Linked DNA regions of Homo sapiens: all the other regions are linked to region 2. Evidence: fine-mapped expression QTL. A gene starts in region 2. Each other region holds a variant in brackets. All regions are shown on one strand. Distances are from middle to middle.

Region 1 (5,031 bases), 120 kb before region 2:
TGGACAGTACTGAGCAGTTGCCAGTGCCCAAAGGTAACACAGAGCTTGGTGAAAGAACACAAGAAGACAACAGAGAAAAAGGGGCAAACCCCAGGGCTGGGGAAAATGTGGGCCCGTACAACGTAGGTCACAAGCATCTTTTTGTTGCTATTAAAACCTAAATATAATTTCTTTCTGATTCAGTTTATCCCTTCATTTAAAAAAAAAAAAAAAAGGGAAGGGGGCTGGGTGTGGTGCCTCATGCCTGTAATCCCGGCACTTTGGGAGGCTGAGGCGGGCAGATCACTTGAAGTTAGAAGTTCGAGACCAGCCTGGTCAACATGGTGAAACCTCATCTCTACTAAAAATACAAAAATTAGCCAGACGTGATGGCGAGCGCCTGTAATCTCAGCTACTTGGGAGGTTAAGACACAAGAATCGCTTGAACCAGGAGGCGGAGGTTGCAGTGAGCCAAGAGTGCACCACTGCATTCCAGCCTGGGTGACAGGGCAAGACTCTGTCTCAAAAATAAATAAATAAATAAAATAAAATAAAATAAAAAAATAAAGGGAAGGGGTTAAGATGATAAATTTTATGTTATGTGTATTTTACCAACATTTTTAAAAACTGATGGAAAAGAGAGGGTGCAAAATATGGTCAGAGATAATGGCTTTATAGTGTTTAGAGATTAGTGGGGGATATATAAAGGAAAACAAGAATGAGATCAGCTGGCTCAAATACACGCAGTCTCAGACTGAAGGTTACACGAGGCACTATAAAAGAGGCAACATGTTAAGTAAGGGGAGGTGCTCATGCTGGTCCTCAGTTTATTTAACATCTTGGCTAAGAATGGAGAAATAGGAGCTAAATGTCATCTCAATACAAGGCAGAGCAGATTTCAAATTCCAAGTGTTGAGAACTCTGAAGGAGAAATGACAGGAGAGGACCCAGCACGACCAGGAAAATGTGAAACATAATAAACACAATATGAGATGCTGCCTATGGGAGAAAAGAACCCACAGACCTCTAGGATAAAATAGCCTATAACCAAACCAGCTCAAACATTTACTGAGCAGGTAAAACCTTGAATACCGGAATGGGTAAGGTGGCAAAGGTCAAAATATACTACAAAAGGACGAGTTCGACAGGAAGAGGGGAAAAGGCCATCAGTTTTAGTACTGGTACACAGAAATCCTGGACCAAAGGCACAGTTCCAAATAACTAAAGGCAGAAACAGTAACTGATGACTCTCTAGATTCTATAGTTTAGAAAGAGGGGAAGATTCAGAGATAATGGGTTGGGGTGGGAAAAGAAATTTCAATGCATGGGATATTTAGTGGAAGAACTGAAGGGAGAGGGATAAGTTCCAATAGAAGAGCACAGGAATTAAAAGTACTTAAAATAATGATATACTTAGAAAACTACACAGAAATCTGCCACTCACTTCCGTGCTGATACAAGGTCGACATCAAGCCAAGGCTCTATGAGATAGAAGGAGACAAATTTGGTCAGGCAGGCAGAGGCTGAATATGAGTGAATTGGAAGATATTTGCCAGATGAAAAGTGAGAGAAAGGCAGACCCAGACAGTTTAGGAACAGTGAAGGGTGCTAAATACCGGGCTCTAACAACATAGCCAACACCCTTTCCAAGGGTAATGACTTAAAAGTGTGAAGAACAGAGTACACAAATATGTTGGTATTGCTCCTCCAACATAGGAGGAATACTTTTCAGGGAAACACCAGAGAAACCCTCATCAATTCCAACAGCCTGAAGCTGACTTTGAGCCAGCAGGATAGAAGCTGGCTGGGTTATTAATGGCTTTCCCAGTTGCTGAACTCTGTGCATCTCTGATTAACTCTCAGAGGGGTATTTGGGAAGGAGTAGGGGGAAAAATACTTTCTTATCAAAGATTTTACCAGAAAAAAAACACCCTTCAAACAATCAAGTATCCAAAATAAGTGCTGAATACAAGAAGATGTATTTCCAGAACAAGGGAGAAACACAGCAGCAGCTCTTTTGCTAAATGTCTAGGATTAATTGCCTCGGAGAGAGGCTGTAATTTGAAGGAATGAAAAATGCACCTACAGACTGCTGTCTGAGTCCTGACCAGACAGTCAGGTTGTCATTGCTCCTCAGTGACAAATGGCTCTGACTTGGGCCTTTA[T/C]AAATGAAGCTCTTGCAGCAAAAAGCTCAAAAGGCCACTGTCCTCTTGACAGTATACAGTTGACTTTGCTGACAATTAGACTATTAAAAAATTTTTGTTTCCCTATGCTGCTCTGTTTCTACTCAATCTCCAGACAACAGAAGGCCTAGCTGGTATTCCTGTCCCTGGAGAGCACAGTGATCTTGGTCAACTCATTTCCTTACTGGAGTGCTGCTGGTTAGAAACTGAGGCCCCAGTCTCTACTTTCAATGACTGTGCACATATGCAAGGGCTTTGATTTCTGGAAGGAAGGCACAGCCCCAGCTGATATCATTCATAGGGAATAGCTAATAGCATAGGTCTCCTGGAACTACAGAGCCTTCATTTTTCTCCAAGGAATGGTAATACAAGAGATAATTACCATTTACAAATTCCTCTCCTCCCTTATGTTACCTTTTAATTTCATCTGCCTACATTATGCAAATCCACATTCCTATTGTGCATTTTATGTTAAAAAATAAGCATATAAATCTAAGGGTTATGTCTTCCTCCCCCAAACCCCCACTGCGTAATTCTTTCCTGCTGTATTTTCCCATTCTAAGCCCAAGCACAATCCAGACGTGTTCCATTTTCTTTCTCTTCTTCTGCATTCCTCTTAACAAATATTCATATGTATTTTACTTGCCCAGTAATTCTAATTCTAGAATCCTAAAGTATTAATTCTAAAGTTGCTAAGCAATATTACACGTTTTTAAGCAATAAATCAAAGTCCTCAGTAAGAGCTAGAATTCAGGTAAAGTATGTATTTTACAAATACATTGAGGCTCGACAGGTACCATATAGCCTATTCTTAATCCTCAGGAAGGCCCCTTACTTTTCTGAGACTTTTCATTATTGTACCTCTGCCTACTACAGGGGAAATTTTTCTTTTTTTTCTTTTTTTTGAGATGGAGTCTCACTTTGTCACCCAGGCTGGAGTGTAGTGGTGCAATCTCAGTTCACTGCAACCTCCGCCTCCTGTGTTCAAGCAATTCTCTGCCTCAGCCTCCTGAGTAGCTGGGTTTACAGGCGCCCGCCACCACGCCCAGCTAATTTTTATATTTTTAGACAGATGGGGTTTCACCATCTTGGCCAGGCTAGTCTTGAACTCCTGACCTTGTGATCCATCTGCCTCGGCCTCCAAAGTACTGGGATTACAGGCATGAGCCACCGCCCCCGGCTGACAGGGGAAATTTTTCTAAGATAGTTAACTCCAACAAAGATCCAAGAAGCTTAAAGCTACAAGAATCTGAGGTTATCTAATCTCATTTTACACATCAGACACTGAGGCCTAGGATGGGAAAGGGGCCGGCTCAAGATCAGATAATAAATCACAGCCTCAGCCAAGACTAGAACCCAGGACTATTCCGTAGACAATAGCTGTCAGGCTGTGGGGCCAGCAGGCATTGACAAGTGATCTCAATGCCAGTCACTGCTGTTCTAAGAAGCAGTGATTGCTAATTTATAAATTTAGTTCAAAACTGGATCCAGTAAGAGTAAAAAAGGACTTAGCATTTTTTTTTTAGACAAGAAAAGTAAGATGGCTGTGCTTTCAGGAAGCTCGTTCCCCTAAAACATTCACAAACAGGCTCCACACTTAGAAAACATCAAGCCCTCAGACAATCAATACTTACAATGCAACCCTCAGATATCCTCACCTGTACTATGCCCACTGCTTTCTAACTGGTACTTCTGCATCAGTACACTTGTCACTTTAGGTCACCTTAACCAATGCTATCAGAGTTAGCTGCCTAAAATATATATTGGATGATGGCTGGCCTGAGACAAAGTCCAAACTTCTCAGCCAGGCATTCCAGGCCATCCAGAGTTCGGGGCTTTCTGATATCTCTCTCATATCACAAACACTCCATAGCTCTAGCCACAGATCTATTCAGGGTCCCTGAATAAGCCCTGTAAATCTCCTGTCTCTACGCTTTTGCTTAAGCTACTCCCTTTATCTAGAATCTCCTCGCTATACCCATCACCAATATCAATTCCTCTCTCACAGTTCTATGCAGTCTTCAATACCCAGCTCAAATCCATGAAGCTTTCTCACCTCTCCCCAAATACTCTCTCCCTTTATACAATGCTCTCCTAGTATTTTAGTGGTAACTTATTACAGTCTATCTTTTTAGATACTTATGTAAAACTTGATGCTATTCCATAACTTAAAATGCTTCAATGATTCCCTCTTGCCTATGGGATAAAGTTCATCTCCTTTGCAAGGCACGCAAGACAAAGATCTAGCTCCATTCTAGGGGCTCATCTGCCACACATCTTTAACTTTACAGTCTAGCCACACCTATCAACAAAGCAATTCCCCAAATATTCCATGCTGTTTCATGTTTCTATGACCATGCATTTACAGCTGGTACTCAAATAATGTTGTTTCATTCAATGTTGTTTTGTATAATGTTGATGAGGGAAAAAAATCAATTCCTGGCCATGGCCACTGTCTGAGTTTGCACACTTCCCCATGTCTGTGTGGGTTTTCTCTGGGCATTCCAGTTTCCTCTCACATCCCAAAGATGTGCACATTGGATGAACTGGCATGCCTAGACTACCTTAGTCTGAGTGAGTGTGGGTGTGTGCATGAGTGCACCCTGTGACGGAATGGCATCCTGTCCAGGGCAGGTTCTCCCTGTGCACCCTGAGCTGCCAGGATAGGCTCCAGCCACCTGTGAGCCAGAATGGGAATAAGCAGGTTGGAAAATAAATGAATACAAAATAATGTAAAAATATGTAAAGCATACAATAATCATACAGATGCACAACAATAATGATGCAGTACTAAGTCTCAGGGCACTGACCATATTTGTTCCTGTTTATGTTTTAACTACATAGTAGTTCCTCACAATTTTCACTTTGC
Region 2 (5,031 bases):
ACAGGACTGAGACTCAGCTCTACAGACTGCCATATCTCATTCTACTCCACTACATAATTTTTCTTTTTCTTTTTTTTGAGATGGAGTTTTGCTCTTGTTGCCCAGGCTAGAGTGCACTGGCGCGATCTTGGCTAACCGCAACCTCCGCCTCCCGGGTTCAAGCGATTCTCCTGCCTCAGCCTCCCGAGTAGCTGGGATTGCAGGCATGCGCTACTACGCCCGGCTAATTTTGTATTTTTAGTATAGACGGGGTTTCTCCATGTTGGTCAGGCTGGTCTTAAACTCCCAACCTCAGGTGATCTGCCTGCCTCGGCCTCCCAAAGTGCTAGGATAACAGGCATGAGCTACACGTGCGGTCCCTTTTCTTTCTTTCTTTTTTTTTTTTTGAGATGGAGTTTTTGCTCTGTTGCCCAGGTGGGGGTGCAATGGCGCCATCTCGGCTCACTGCAACCTCTGCCTTCTGGGTTCAAGCGATTGTCCTGCCTCAGCCTCCCGAGTAGCTGGAACTACAGGCGCCTGCCACCATGCCCAATTTTTGTATTTTTAGTAGAGACAAGATTTCACCATGTTGGCCAGGCTGGTCTCCAGCTCTTGACCTCAGGTGATCTACCGCCTCAGCCTCCCAAAGTGCTGGGGTTGTGTGAGCCACCGCCCCCAGCCTACATAACTTTTCTATGCCTCCAAACAAAATGAAAATTCACACTTGCAAACTTACCCAGAAGCCAGCTATCTTTGTGCATACCCGCTTCAAACTGACTACTGAGGGAAGACTGCTGCAGCACAGCACAGTCCTGTAGGCTGCCGGGCCAGTTTGTCTCCACGGTCATTAGTGTCCCTCTAATGTCACACACCATCAGGCAGTTTAAAGAATGCAGGCCTTTTCGGTTCACATAGGAGAGGTCTTCAGCATTTGGTGCCTTGATGGCCACATGGATACAGTCAACCACCCCCATCACCCCTGGCATCCCTGCCAACCCATAGAATTCATCCTTCAGAGCCTGAATGGAGGCTTCATCAGCTGGAAAGCGAATGAACTGTGAGGCCCTTTCCACAAGTGCTTCAGTGACATTGGCAACACAACGACTCATAGACGCCTGACTGATTCCAATGGCATCTCCCATCCGAGTCTGGAAGGAACCTGAGGTATAAAAACCCAATGCTGCAAGGACCTGTGTCTCTGGGCTAATAGCCCTGGATCGCTGAGTAGGCCTAGAAAGATTCGCCCCCAAGAGCTCCACCAAGTAATAAATGAACTGCCGTGGAAACCCATACATGGACATCAAGTATTCATCAGTCACATCATCCAGCTTAAAACGGTCCAATGTCCGGTGACCACGGCCATATAGCAAGAGGTCACAGTCAAGCACTGTTATTGGTATAGCCATGGTAAATGTGAATGTTGGCTCTCCTCTTTGCTTTTTCTGAACTGTTCCCAATGAAGATGTTGGTGCAAGAACGTATTTTTAAGAAAGTATCAGAATCCAACAGCTAACCACAGTTAAATGGCTCTGCCATTTATAATCTTCTCTCTGTAAATGTTAAAAGAAAAAACATTAGGAACCTACCAAAGACTTTAAAGTGACTCAAAGGCTGGAGCAGCTCCTTTTCTACAAATTTCCATTTTGTTGAGGCAAAACGTACTGTACTTACAACTCCGGATTTTTCTCCACTAACTCATGGCTGCACGACAGGCTTGCTCTGATTCAAGGATAATGGGAATTCAATCTTTGTGGCTCATTTAATGCTTGGCATTTCAATTGAGAACACCAAAAGAATAATGGAGGTGATGACATAATTATTCACAAGGTAAAAGAGGTCGGCTTCTAACTATATAGGCCAAGAAGCAGCTGACATATGTCATAACCACCTTGGGTAAGAATTGGTCACGGGTTTCATTATCCAAAGACTTCTGGTTTCACCTGACAAATACAGGACAGATGCTGGGGTGTTCAAACCAGTCTAACAAGAAAAGAAGGGGCAAAAAAAAAAAAAAAAAAAAAAAAAAAAAAACAACCAAAGTCCACAACCCAGCCTTATGGACGTACACTGTGTGCTGTAACAAAAGGCTTTTCCCTCACTCCAAGAACTCCAAATCGTGAACCTGAGGGCCAGGAAGTACGGAAGACCAGACACATTGGAAGTCGGGAGCGAAAAAGAGGCTGGCCGAACCAGGTTTGGGAAGCGACTCTGCCACTTTTAAAGGGCACCCTAAAAACGGATGTCAAAGTCTGATTGCGCCGGCCACTCAGTTAGCCCAGGCCCGTCACCCACCTCTCCGCGGCTGCCAGGTTACCAGCCACACTTCCCACCCACCCAGCCGGGTTGGGCCCTCCTCCGGAACCGGCGACTGCACAGAGGCCGCCACGGCGCGCAACAGCGGCACCGCCCCTTCCGCGTCAGCGCCCGCCCCGCGCCGCGCCCTCACTGCCGCTGCCGCGGCTACCTGCGGTTCATCTCCGCACATTCCACACGCGGCCCAAACGGTCTCTCTCTCTCTCTCTCAAACACCGCCTTTCCGTCTTTGTTTTATCTTGAGTAGCTTAGAAAGATTGGAGAAGAAAGCTTACGTGGAATGAAAATCAACTTTTATGGATATTTTGAGGACTAAAAGAATAAATAGGGCGTCCGTACTGTAGCGAAAGTGCGACTAAGGTTAGGCATCTGGATTTCCCCCGTAGCCCTCTTTCACCCCCCCCCCCCGGCCATTACCGAAGCGGATGAAAACAAACACTAACGATGGCGGCGCCGGGAAGCGACCGGCTGCTGGGCTTAAGGCGGGAGTGACCGCTTAACCAGTGAGGGAAGCACTGAAGAGCGCCAGTCGACGTGGGTGCGACAACTCGCGGAGTCTTAGGAGCAAAACGTCTGGGGCCTGCGAGCCAGGACCCTTCTGAAGCCTTAGGTGTCTATCGGCGACGTGTACGGTCACTGCAGCTCCGGAGCGCGGAACCCTCAGCCAGGAGGCGCGGCTGGTCGGTCCCAGGTCCCGGCCTCCGTAATGAGAGCCCGGAACCACTCTTTGTGCCGCAGCTTCGCAGGTACTAACTTTTGCGGGGGATACCCCAAGATCTCTCAGCGCCCCCGGGTGGGAGGCTGTGGATCTGCGGCCCCTTGGCTGCTGCTTCGTGGAAGTAGAAGGGATTAGCCACGGTTCAATCCCCTGGGCCCCTGAGTTTTCTGTGGGAAGTTGAGTTGGTCTAGGCCCCGTTGGCCCCTGCTTGTTTGGCAGAGAATCCCCTCCACCCCAGAGCTTTCCTCTCCACTTTTTCAGCTCCTTGGGTTAGGTCGTCAGGCGTTTTGGAGGTAATTTGGGGGGCCATAACTCCGGGGTTGGGTGCCAATATGAGTGAGGTAGGTTTTCATTCAATCAAGATTTGCTGAGTGCCAAATATGTACTCCGCGTGTAGGTGAGGGTGACTGTTGACTAGTGAAAAAAGGGACCCATGGTTCACGACTGTCTTCTTACTGGCAGTGGAACGACCTGTGGAAACCTGTGATCCATTCTCATTAAATAAATCTCTGGGTAAGTGGCTAAGCACCTTCTTGAGCTCATCACTAATTCTTCCCAGTTTTCACTTTTCCAGTGAGTTCCCAGTTAGCCTGGTCAATTCAGCGTAGCATTTCACTTTTGGTATTTCTTCGTTCTCTGGCCACCCCGCAGCCAAAAAGAAAAAAGAGATTTTAAAAAATTACCTATTTTCTCATTACACTTAGTTTAAAACTCATCTCCTAAGGTGATAGAATTTATTGGACACCTTTAGTGGGAGATGTATTATAATAAGAAACAACAAGCTCTTCCTTTACACTAAATTAGCTTCCAGATTTTGTGTGTTGTTTTATGACTGTTAGTCCTTTTCATGTGTGCATGTAGTGGCTCCAGCTCAATTATGAGGTTTTTTTTTTGTTGTTTTCAACTCTCCATTTATCAGCTCAGGAGAAGTCTTTTAGTTTTTTAGATTTTAAAATTTTTATTATTATTATTAGAGATAAGGTATTGCTGTGTTACCCAAGCTGGAGTACAGTGGCGCCTTCATAGCTAACTTTAATCTCAAACTCCTGGGCTCAGGGAATCCTCCCACCTCAGCCTTCTAAAGTGTTGGAGTTACATGCATAAGCCACAGAGTCCGGCCCAGGAGCTTAATCTCGAAGGAAGTTTACTTGAACTTTAGGTGTGGAATATTCGAAAGTAACTTCCAACATGGGGTGTGGAGCTAAGTAAGATGAATTTACATAAACCGTCATTTTTCCTGCATGTGCTTAGTGGAGGAGAGTGCATAGAGTTGCTGGTCATTGCTTCCTATCAAATTGTGGAAACCAATAAAAACTGAAAATATTCTGCGAGAGAATAGAGGTACTGTAGCCAGGAGGAATGCAAAGGAGGCTGCCCAGAGGGAATCAAACCTTTCTAAAGTTTGGGTTTTAAATATTTAAAAGGATTTTAAGTCCCTAAAGGGATTTAAAGGTTATTTTAAATAATTAGCTGATTTTTTTTTAATGTCCTTGGAAGGTAGATTTCTTGCTTTTTTTTTTTTTTTTTTTTTTTTTTTTTGAGACGGAGTTTCACTCTGGTTGCCCAGGCTAGAGTGCGGTGGCGGGAACTCGGCCCACTGCAACCTCTGCCTCCCGGGTTCAAGCGATTCTCCTGCCTCAGCCTCCTGAGTAGCTGGGATTACAGACATGTGCCAGCACGCCCAGCTAATTTTGTATTTTTAGTAAAGATGGGGTTTCTCCATGTTAGTTAGGCTGTTTGTTCTTGAACTCCCGACCTCAGGTTATCCACCCGCCTTGGCCTCCCAAAGTGCTGGGATTACAGACATGAGCCACCACTCCTGGCCGATTTCTTGCTTTTAACTGAAGAGTAAATGTGGGCCAGTTTATTAAAAATCCTCTGAAGGGGCCGGGCAGGGTGGCTTACACCTGTAATCCCAGCACTTTGGGGGGCCGAGGCAGGCGAATCATGAGGTCAGGAGTTCAAGACCAGCCTGGCCAACAAGGTGAAACCCCGTCTCTACTAAAAATACAAAAAGTTAG
Region 3 (4,932 bases), 55 kb after region 2:
TGGAAACGTCTTCCTCTACCACAGTGCATCCTTATTTGATGGTCATTCCTTTGCCAAAGGCCTAGGAGGCCTACCACCTTCTATCTTCCCTGTAATAGGAAAGAGACATAATTAGAAAATTATCTTTTGATCACTCTTGAGATTGGCATTGTGCCCAGCAGTCATTATCTGGAATTTGCTTGAGCTTGGTTCCTTCTTTCTCTGCACATTCTCAGCATTACTTACATGCTCCTGTTGTTCTGTGCCTGACGTCTTCTCCTTGCAGATGCCACTAGGCCAAGTTGCTCTAACAGCCATTGCATTAGCTATTTAGCTTTCCAGGCAGATGCCAGTGGTACTGGGCAGAGGAGATTGTGAGGTCCTGAGTATCTGTGTTCTTGCTCTTTCCTCAGAGAGCTCACTCCGTCATCTAGCAGTTCTCACACTTGACCAGATGTCCTGATACTGATTATAATGACCCCATCTCTGCTTAGGGCATTTCCTCTTCCTGCCTCTGAGGGGCAGAAGAGTGCCCCGCACAAGCCACAAACTGGGTGCCCCATGCCAGGAGATGTCCCTCTTTGAGGTGGAATGATCACCTCCTAAATAGATATTAAGATCCTATGGTAGCTGCCCTGGATTTGCTTTAAGGAGAAAAGCATGCCCAGTAATAACAATACAGTAATAGCCAGGTGCAGTGGCTCACGCCTGTAATCCCAGCACTTTGGGAGGCCAAGGCAGGCAGATCACAAGGTCAGGAGTTCGAGACCAGCCTGGCCAACATGGTGAAACCCCGTCTCTACTAAAAATACAAAAATTAGCCAGGCATGGTGGCGGGCACCTGTAATCCCAGCCACTCGGGAGGCAGAGGCAGGAGAATCACTTGAACTTGGGAGGTGGGGGTTGCAGTGAGCCAAGATTGGATCACTGCACTCCAACCCGGGTGACAGAGTGAGACTCCATCTCAAAAAAAAAAAAAAAAAGTAATAATTACTACTACCAAGACCTTTTGGGCCAGGCACAGTGGCTCACACCTGTAATCTCAGCACTTTGGGAGGCTGAGGAGGCCTTCACTTGAACTCAGGAGTTTAAGACCAGCCTGAGCAACATGGTGAAACCCTGTCTCTACAAAAAGTACAAAAAATTAGCTGGGCGTGGTGGCATCCGTCTGTAGTTCCAGCTGCCTTGGGAGGTGGAGGCAGGAGGATTGCTTGCTTGAGCTGGGGAAGTCAATGCTGGAGTGAGCCATGTTTGCGCCACTGCCTCTAGCCTAGGTGACAGAGTGAGACCCTGTCTCAAAAACAAATAAATAAATAAATAAAAATCAAGGCTTTTTGAGTGCCAGGCATTTTTCTAAGTGTTTTACATGAATCTTCAACAGCCCTAAGAGGTAAGTTTTCTCATCCCAGTTTACAGATGAGAAAACCAACAATGATTAGCTTGCTCATAGTCACACAGACCCAGGCAAAACAAAGCTTTGCTTGATCTTAGAGGATCTGGTTCCTCAATTTAGCCTTTTAACCACTAAACTCCCTTGCCTATCATGACATGCACTTGGAAGAAAGTGTGGCTCCAATTCTCTCAACTGATGCCACAGCCGTAGCCAGTTCTGAGGCCTCCCTCT[C/T]CTTTCAGGAAGCTGCACCCAAACCACCCTCAGCTGTTGGTGTCTCCAGGCCACATTAAAAACTCTGAGGCAAGAGACTCTCCACGCTCCCTTGTGGTCGTGTTTAAACCCCTACTGGCAGGAAATTGTGATGGTGAAACTCTGCAGATGCAGCTTCTGTTCATTTAGTCATCAGTAGAGACGCATTTTTATTAATAGTTGATACTCTAGGACAGTTAAACTTCTCACAGTTCTGTTTTCCTCTGCTTCTGTCTTTACCATTCTCTCTCAATCTCTAACTCACCCCTTCCTCAGCTGGTATAAAGATAACAGATTCTGGCCGGGTGCAGTGGCTCATGCCTGTAATCCCAGCACTTTGGGAGGCCGAGGCGGGTGGATCACAACATCAGGAGTTCAAGACCAGCCTGGGCAACATGGTGAAACCCTGTCTCTACTAAAAATACAAAAAATTAGCTGGGCTTGGTGACGGGCGCCTCAGGAGGCTACTCAAGCTACTCAGGAGGCTGAGGCAGAGAATTGCTTGAACTCGGGAGGCGGAGGTTGCAGTGAGCTGAGATCACACCACAGCACTCCAGCCTGGGTGACAGAGCGAGACTCTGTCTCAAGAAAAAAATTTAAAAATACAGATTCCTAGGCCTTACCACAGACCTGCTACTGTGTCAGAATGTCAGTAGTATAGTGGGGCCACCTGGTTCACATTCCCCCCAGGGGGTCCCGATGCCCAGCAAAGGGTGTGAAGAAATCTTTTGTAAACTGTTTAATTTGTAGAGCTGTACACTTGGTATTTTATTCTAGTGTCAGTCAGATCTGTGCCAGGGATATTTCATGTTTAATTTCTGAATCATCTTGCTCTTGTGGTCCTTTTCTCTTTTGTTAAGTGTGTGGCCCACTTGGACTCCCAAGGCCGTTCCATTAATCCTCCAGCCCCTGCAAAGCCCTGATGCATATACCCCTCCCTACCCTGTGCCTACGCAGCTGCCCTGCGTTCTCCCACTTGCTCGGCCCAGCTAGGGCTGAGCTTCGTCTTGCTTGCTGCCTCCCCTCTTCGGGACTGGGCTGGCTGCCTCCTCAAGGCCCTGCCTGAATAAACGGCTCTTCCCTCTCTTTCCGGTACAGGACTCATTACCAGAGAAGCTGGCTGTGCATGAGAAGAATGTCCGCGAGTTTGATGCCTTTGTGGAAACCCTGCAGTAAAAGTATCCTTGAGTCCCAGCAGCACCCCCTTTTTGTGGCCCCAGGGCATAAGCAGCCTCCCATGCATCAGCTGCTCCCACCCCTCATCCTGCTCTGAGCCAGGTGGAAGGGAGGCTGGCTTCTCCCATGGGGACCCAGAAGTCCCTACTCTTGGACCTCCTGGAGACTCCGTGGCGGCAGTCAAGCCCAGTGCCCAGTTGGAGAAGACTCACGTGCTGGCCTTGGAGATGGGAAGAACCTTCGTACGAAAAAGCCCTCAGCAGGGCCATCTGTGTGCCCTGCCCATCACCAACTGCTTCCCAAGGGTGTCATCCTGTTCCTCCTGCTGCCGGCCTCCTGCCTGGGCCTGCCTTGCAGCTGGCCCCTTCCCTGCCTGCTGTCACCATCCACTGTTTGACATTCCAGCTGGTGGCCAAGAGATTGGTGTGGAGTCGCAGAAAGAGGAAGGAGACAGTGCCAGGAGGAAGAAGGAAGGAGTCCCTTAGCTCTCTTCATTGTCCCCTTTACTTCCTGCTATCTTCTTCTCCTCTTCTTCTCTCTCTTGCCTCTATGCCTGTATTTCTGGCAATATGACAGGCCTGCCTACCCAAGATCAGAACTCCAAAACCACTCCCACCCCTGAAGGTCGGGAGGGTCTGAGCAGCCCTGGTGGCTGCCTGTGCTCAGGTCCTCAGCTCCATGGGAAATAAAAATGGCACCCTGAATCTCTAGGATTTTGTCACTTGGAGTCACAGCAAAGTTCTCTTCCTCTTGTCCCCCCGTTGCTGCTCCTTGGTTATAGAACATGGTAAATATTTATTACTTTCAGAGAAACCAGATATTTTATAGAGGAAATATGTTTGAGGTGAGTTGTTTTTCACTTGGAGAAGGCGGAGGGCTCTTCCTGGGACGGAGACCTCCTCCTCCGGAGGTTATTGAGAATCCGGGCTGCTGCTTTGAGGATCTTCCCACCATACAGACAGCGAGATCCAAGAAGAGGGCTGGCCGGGGGCAAAGTCACCTCCCAGTGTGGCTGCACTGGAACTGACTAAAGGCTTTACCTTGGATAGTTGCGTATTCCTGGTGAGAGCCTTACATCTCCCACAGTTTCTGCAGAGTGACTGACTCCATTCTGGCAGCCCAGGAAGTCCTGGGTGCTAAATGTGATGGCCACATGTAGTGGTTAGGGGATGTTGTGTGTGTCCCCCAACTGCCTGGGTACTTGTTCCTGATCCCTGGGGCTGTCCTGTGGAGCTTTTCCTCCTGCTTGGGCCTAGCTACCATCTCCCTCTAATCCCAGGTTCTCTACACTGCCCTGGGGTTTACCAGCTGGATTGGCTTCTGGTTGAGAAATCAAAGCTGGGCGTATGATTGACTTAACCCTTCAGGTATTGTTACTTGAATAAGTCAAGTGCCTAGCCTCACCCACCTATGATCTGTCCTTTCCCAGCCTCGCTGGTAGTCCTGGTCAAGGAGATCTAGGTCTACTCCATTCCTCCTGGCCCACCTGGGGCATTCACTGGCAGCAGCTGTGCTTCAGTGGAGCAGGTGGTTCTCAGCTGCTTGTTAGTATACTGCATGTGACACTGTTCCCACATACAAGGCTGACTTCTGAGGATTGGAGCAGGCTCTGGCGGGGACCAGAGCTCTGCGTGCTGCTGCTGCCACCAAGAAGTGTTAGCAGAAGCAGTAGCAGCCAACTGGCCCTCCTGACTTTGGCCCAGAGCACATGCGTGGCTTGCTGAACCCAGGCTCAGGTTTATCCCCAAGGCCCCAGCTTTGAGAAGGGGGAAGGCCCCTGGTAAGTTATTGATGCCCCCATATTTCAGCTACTGCTCTCTTTCCAAGGCCTTGCATGGAAAGGCCTAGCCATTGTCTGAGGCAGCAATCTTTGGCATCTACAGGTGGCAGCAGCCTTTCACCAGGGCTCCATCTGTGAAGAGTCTCAGCCATGACTTTGAGCTGAGCTTGGGAGAAGTAAAGCAACTGTTAAGGCCAGCCCTTGCCCCTCAGACCTGCCATGAAAGGAATGAGCCCTAGACTGACTCCTGCAGCACCCCCGGGACAGGCTGGGACCAGCTGTTTGTCTCCAGGTGTCAGAGTCCCTCCTCCTCCTCCAACCTCTCCAACCTACTTTGTTTGGAAATACCGAGCTA
Region 4 (5,031 bases), 140 kb before region 2:
AAATTCTATAAATGAGTCTCAGGGTTGGCAGGTGAACGAGTAGGGTGTGCACAAGTTAGGTGACTTGTCTTGAAGCTGCCGGCAGAGCAAGCACACTGTTTTTCACTTAGATGGTGTATTTTTAGGGGTGGCTTGTGGTTAGATAATAGTGGTGGGGAGATACGTAAAGAGTCCCAAGCCAACCCGTGGTGCTGGTACTGCTTCTATCCCATAGGACCTTCACATTCTTCCCAGGTAAGACATAGATTAGAATAGCCAGAAACTTATTCACAGCATGTGCTCCTAAACTGTCCCTGTGGCCTCTCCACCTAGAACATGGGAGTGAAGAAACTGGGCATTTTAAACAATTTACTCCAGCTTTGCACTGATATTTTCAGTTTTAATTAGTTTGCAAAATAAGCTATACAACATTTTACCACTTTTCCCCAGTTGCTTCACATCAGCAGAATCCAGAAAAATATTTAGACCAAGAAACACTTTGTGGCTTTTATAAGCTCTCAGTTAGCTCCTGTGTTAGCTCTATTAGTTCTGCCTTAAAGAAAATCAAGTTCAAATTCTGCTTAAGGCTGGGTGTGGTGCCTCACGCCTGTAATTCCAGCACTTTGGGAGGCCAAGGTGGGTGGATCAGCCAGGAGTTCGAAACCAGCCTGGTCAAGATGGTAAAACCTTGTCTCTACTAAAAATACAAAAAAATTAGTTGGGCATGGTGGCGCACGCCTGTAACCCCCCAGCTACTAGGTAGGCTGAGGCATGAGAATCACTTGAACCTGGGAGACAGAGGTTGCAGTGAGCCGAGATTGCGCCACTGCACTCCAGCCTGGGCAAGACTGTCTCAAAAAAAAAAAAAAAAAATCTGCTTAAATACTGAGACCCACAACAGATAAAGGGAGAAAGGTGGAAGGGTGGGAGGGGAAAGGGACCCAGGAGTAAAAGTAAAGGCAGAATAGAAGGACACTAGCTCAATCTCATCACCACAACCTCTAACTCTTATCAGACAAAAAAGGATAAGGCCGAGTTTTCATTAGGGAGAGTCTTTGTCTCTTTAAAGATACTTCTTTTTTTTTTTTTTGAGACAGGATCTTGCTCTGTCACTCAGACTGGAGTGCAGTGATGTGATCTCTGCTCAATGCAGCCTCTGCCTCCCAGGCTCTAATGATCCTCCCACCTCAGCCTCCTGAGTAGCTGGAACTGTGGAACTACATGCACATGCTACCAAGCTCAGCTAATTTCTGGAAAAAAAAAAAAAAAAACTTTTTGTAGAGATGAGCTCTCACTATGTTGCCCAGGCTGGGCTTTCCTGGGTGCAAGCAATCCTCCCACCTTGGCCTACTGTGCTGGGATTACAGGCTTGAGCCACTGTGCCCAGCCTCTTTGAGGACACGTCTTTATTGTACATAGGCTATACCATTTTGAATGCACATGCCTAGGATAATATCCAGGGTTTATCAACAGCAGAGCCCCCAGCCCATCAGCGACTGAGGTGGTTCTAAAAGTACATCAAGGAAGTCCTAAAAGATTGATTGGTGAGGCCAGGCATAGTGGCTCACGCCTGTAATCCCAGCACTTTGGGAGGCTGAGACGGGCAGATCGCTTGAGGTCAGGAGTTCGAGACCAGCCTGGTCAACATGGCGAAACCCCATCTCTACTAAAAATACAAAAATTAGCCAGAGCTAATTTTTGTATTTTAAAAGAACTCTCTACTTTGAAAAGAACCCTGAGACACTATGTGAAGAAGCACAGGTTAGTTTACTGGTGAATGAAAAAAAAAAAGAATGACTGGTGAATATACTGAATTTGTCTCTATGTGACCTGAGGCCCAATCTATGCAATTCACATTTGGTCCCCATAAAATAGTTTTTAACCAATCTCAATAATGCCAAGTAAAAGCTAAGTCCTATGCTTGAGAATAGCTGAATTCTTGCTTCTCCCAACCACTGCTATAAGAAAGCATAATATGCCACAGTAATTGGGCACACAAAAATTCCTTGCCTTAGTTTTTAGGAACTTTTCTTCTGAGTTGCTTCTGTTCAAGGAGCTCTGGATTATAAATGATGCCACGGGTACAGGTTCACTTACAGCAAATTAGTAAGTGCTTGCACAGTTAATTCTGTCAGTCTTACTCCTACACAGAAATACATTTGGCCCCAAGGGGCCCAACCACCCACAGAGCTCTTTTGCACATCTTTTTACCCTCCAGCACAGAAATACAGGGCTATATCCTAGAAAATACCCAGAGAAAGAGAAAAGGTAGTTTCCCTGATATCCTATGTCTAGGAAACCAGGGTCCAGCTTTTTATTTGAATGTTGTTCCTAAATTCATTTCTCTGAATAACCCAAATAATTACCTAAGGCAAGATATTTCTTGTTTTTTTCTTTTTTCTCTTTTTTTTTTTTTTTTTTTTTTGGAGATGGAGTTTCGCTCTTGTTGCCCAGGCTGGAGTGCAATGGCGCAATCTCGGCTCACTGCAACCTCCACCTCCCGGGTTCAAGCGATTCTCCTGCCTCAGCCTCCCGAGTAGCTGGGATTACAGGCATGCACCACCATGCCCGAAGATATTTCTTGAAAGTTCTAAATCTGTACCTTTATATCCTTTGGTATGCTGAAGCTTTCCTCAGTATATGTAAGGACACTTTTAAAAAAAGCAATTTGTGCTGGACGCAGTGGCTCACGCCAGTAATCCTAACACTTTGGGAGGCCAAGGTGGTAGGAT[C/T]GCTTGAGCCCAAGAGTTTAAGACCAGTCTGGGCAACACAGTGAAACCCTGTCTCTACAAAAAATACCAAAATTAGCCAGGCATGGTGGCATGTGCAGTAGTCTCGGTTACCTGGGAGGCTGAGGCCGGGGAATCACTTGAGCCCAGGAGGCAGAGGTTGCAGTGAGCTGTAATCAAACCACTGCATTCCAGCCTGGGCAACAGAGTGAGACCCTATCTCAAAAGAAAGAAAAGAAAAAAAAAGCAATGTGTTCAGAGTGTGCTAGCAGGCTACCTCAGATTTCAAAGCCTACTTAGTTGTGGCAGCATGTTACAGTAATGGCCCCAAATGATTTAGGCCCTTCTGTATCCATGGCCTTAGAGAGTCTTCTTCCTGGTTTGGGGCTTACCCAAACAGCTTGCTTTAGCTGATGGAATGGACAAAAGCAAACATGACATAAGGAGAGATTCAAAAAGTGCTTATGCAGTAGGACTTGACCTCTCCTGCTTCTTTTCAGAACTCTGAGGTCAGGAGTTTGAGACCAGCCTGGCCAACATGGTGAAACCCTGTCTCTACTAAAAATACAAAAATTAGCCAGGTGTAGTGGCAGGCGCCTGTAATCCCAGCTACTAGGGAGGCTGAGGCAGGAGAATCACTTGAACCCAGGAGGCGGAGGTTGCAGTGAGCTGAGACTACACCACGGCACTCCAGCCTGGGCGACAGAGCGAGATTCCGTCACACACACAACCCTGAGACACTATGTGAAGAAGCACAGGTTAGTTTACTGGTGAATAGAAAGGAGACAAGTCATCCCAGCTGAAGCCAAATAGCCTGCCAAATGCCAGATACATGTGTGAAACTATCTGTTATCAGTTTTCTATAACTGCCATAACAACAAGCAGAAACTTAGTGGCTTAAACAAGACAAATTTATTATCTCTCAGTTCTATAGGCCTGAAGTCAAACAAAGGACTCATTGGGCTAGAAGAAAGGTGTTGGCTGGCCTGTGTTCGGGTCTGTCTCCTTGTCCATTTCGGTTGCTGGCAGAATTCAGTTCCTTGCAGATGCAGAACTGAGGTTCCCACTCGCTGCTAGCTGTTAGCAGAGGCCATTCCCATCTTTGATCATTGCAGCACCTTGACTGACCCTTCTGCCTTCCTCTTCCACTTTTAATAGCTCATGTAATCAGATGAGGCCCACCCAGATAAATCAGGATAATCTTCCCACCTCAAGATCTATAATCTTAATCATAACTGCAAAGTCCTTTCTGCCATGTAAAGTAACATATTCACAGGTTCTGGGGATTAAGATGTGGAAGGACCTCTTAGGCAGATCATTATTTTACCTACTAAACCATCTAAGATCATCCACATCCAGCCAAGCTATTAATTGACCACAGAGAAGAGCCAATGATGCAGACCAGGCAAACTGCAATTGGACTCGCAGAATTGTGAGAAACAAGAAATGTCTTATGCCACTAAATTTGGGGGTGGTTTGTTCAGCAGCAAAAGCTAAATGACATAATGGCCAAAGCTATACCACTTCCCAGGGTTGTGCAACCCTCATCCCAATACATGCGTCTTTTCCTTCTTTGCTCTAGATCAACATGTGTACCTTAAAAGCAACTGGCAGTTTTTTGTTCTCTGAGTCATAAAACAAAATAATTCATTTTATTTTTTCTTCTAGTCCAGATCTAGAGATTATTGCTGAAGTTTAACCAAAGTCAGCCTTATTATCTCAAAACAACCAGAGAGAGGCTCTTTGCTCTACAACTTTGGAAGCTACATACATGAAAAAAATATATACATACTGCAAGTCCCAGGGAATGATTTCAAGGAAGGACTACCTTTTGACAGAGCTAAAGCTGCTGATAGAAGAGGAAAATTTCACTGCCATCCAACTATCTCTCCTTTACGTATAGAGACCAATGAGGGGTTTGGGGCACAGCCTCTTAAAGAGGGATCTCTAACCCTTCACTAGCCAAATAAATTTTCTCAACTAGGCTCCCCCTCAAATTTGCTGATACTTAAAGGTCTGGAAAACTTCAGTAGAAGGAAAATGCCAATAGCAACTTAATGTCCTCTTGGCTCTTTTGGCTGACTTCCCTGTGCCTGGGTCTTGACTATTAATTGAATGCTGTTCAGATTCCATCTCAAAAACAAATGAGGATGGAGACCAGAGGCCTGCCGTCCCCAGACTGATAAGAGCAGCACGGTGCAATTACACCCAAACAGCTCTGTTTTGGAATGTAATCACCGCCCCAGCCTTCTTCCCAAAGGGATGGCAACAGTGTAATTACCACTACACAATTCATTGTTTGGGAATATAATTCTTCTACAGG

What was found. PIP is the estimated chance that this variant, and not a neighbour inherited with it, causes the effect.
Region 1: its variant is the best candidate, but not a certain one, in a credible set for the expression of ATG13 in whole blood (TOPMed, PIP 0.85).
Region 3: its variant is the best candidate, but not a certain one, in a credible set for the expression of ATG13 in whole blood (TOPMed, PIP 0.63).
Region 4: its variant is the best candidate, but not a certain one, in a credible set for the expression of ATG13 in whole blood (INTERVAL, PIP 0.56).

The regions. Positions count from the first base shown.
Region 1 is chr11:46,496,608-46,501,638 of GRCh38, forward strand. All of the region lies in intron 9 of AMBRA1 (autophagy and beclin 1 regulator 1), which reads right to left. Among named protein-coding and RNA genes, the nearest start is that of MIR3160-1, 47 kb to the left of the region's middle. The variant T/C (reference allele first, on the strand shown) is at 2,145.
Region 2 is chr11:46,614,853-46,619,883 of GRCh38, forward strand. ATG13 (autophagy related 13) reads left to right here and starts at 2,701. Exons shown (of 19, transcript NM_001346311.2): 1 at 2,701-3,038. It overlaps HARBI1 (harbinger transposase derived 1), which reads right to left and starts at 2,375. Exons shown (of 3, transcript NM_173811.4): 1 at 2,272-2,375; 2 at 716-1,529. The coding sequence starts at 1,385. RefSeq lists an enhancer at 2,508-2,687 and a silencer at 2,667-2,961.
Region 3 is chr11:46,669,536-46,674,467 of GRCh38, forward strand. ATG13 (autophagy related 13) reads left to right here. Exons shown (of 19, transcript NM_001346311.2): 19 at 2,720-4,932. The coding sequence ends at 2,797. Among named protein-coding and RNA genes, the nearest start is that of ARHGAP1, 29 kb to the right of the region's middle. The variant C/T (reference allele first, on the strand shown) is at 1,604.
Region 4 is chr11:46,476,267-46,481,297 of GRCh38, forward strand. All of the region lies in intron 11 of AMBRA1 (autophagy and beclin 1 regulator 1), which reads right to left. Among named protein-coding and RNA genes, the nearest start is that of MIR3160-1, 27 kb to the left of the region's middle. The variant C/T (reference allele first, on the strand shown) is at 2,712.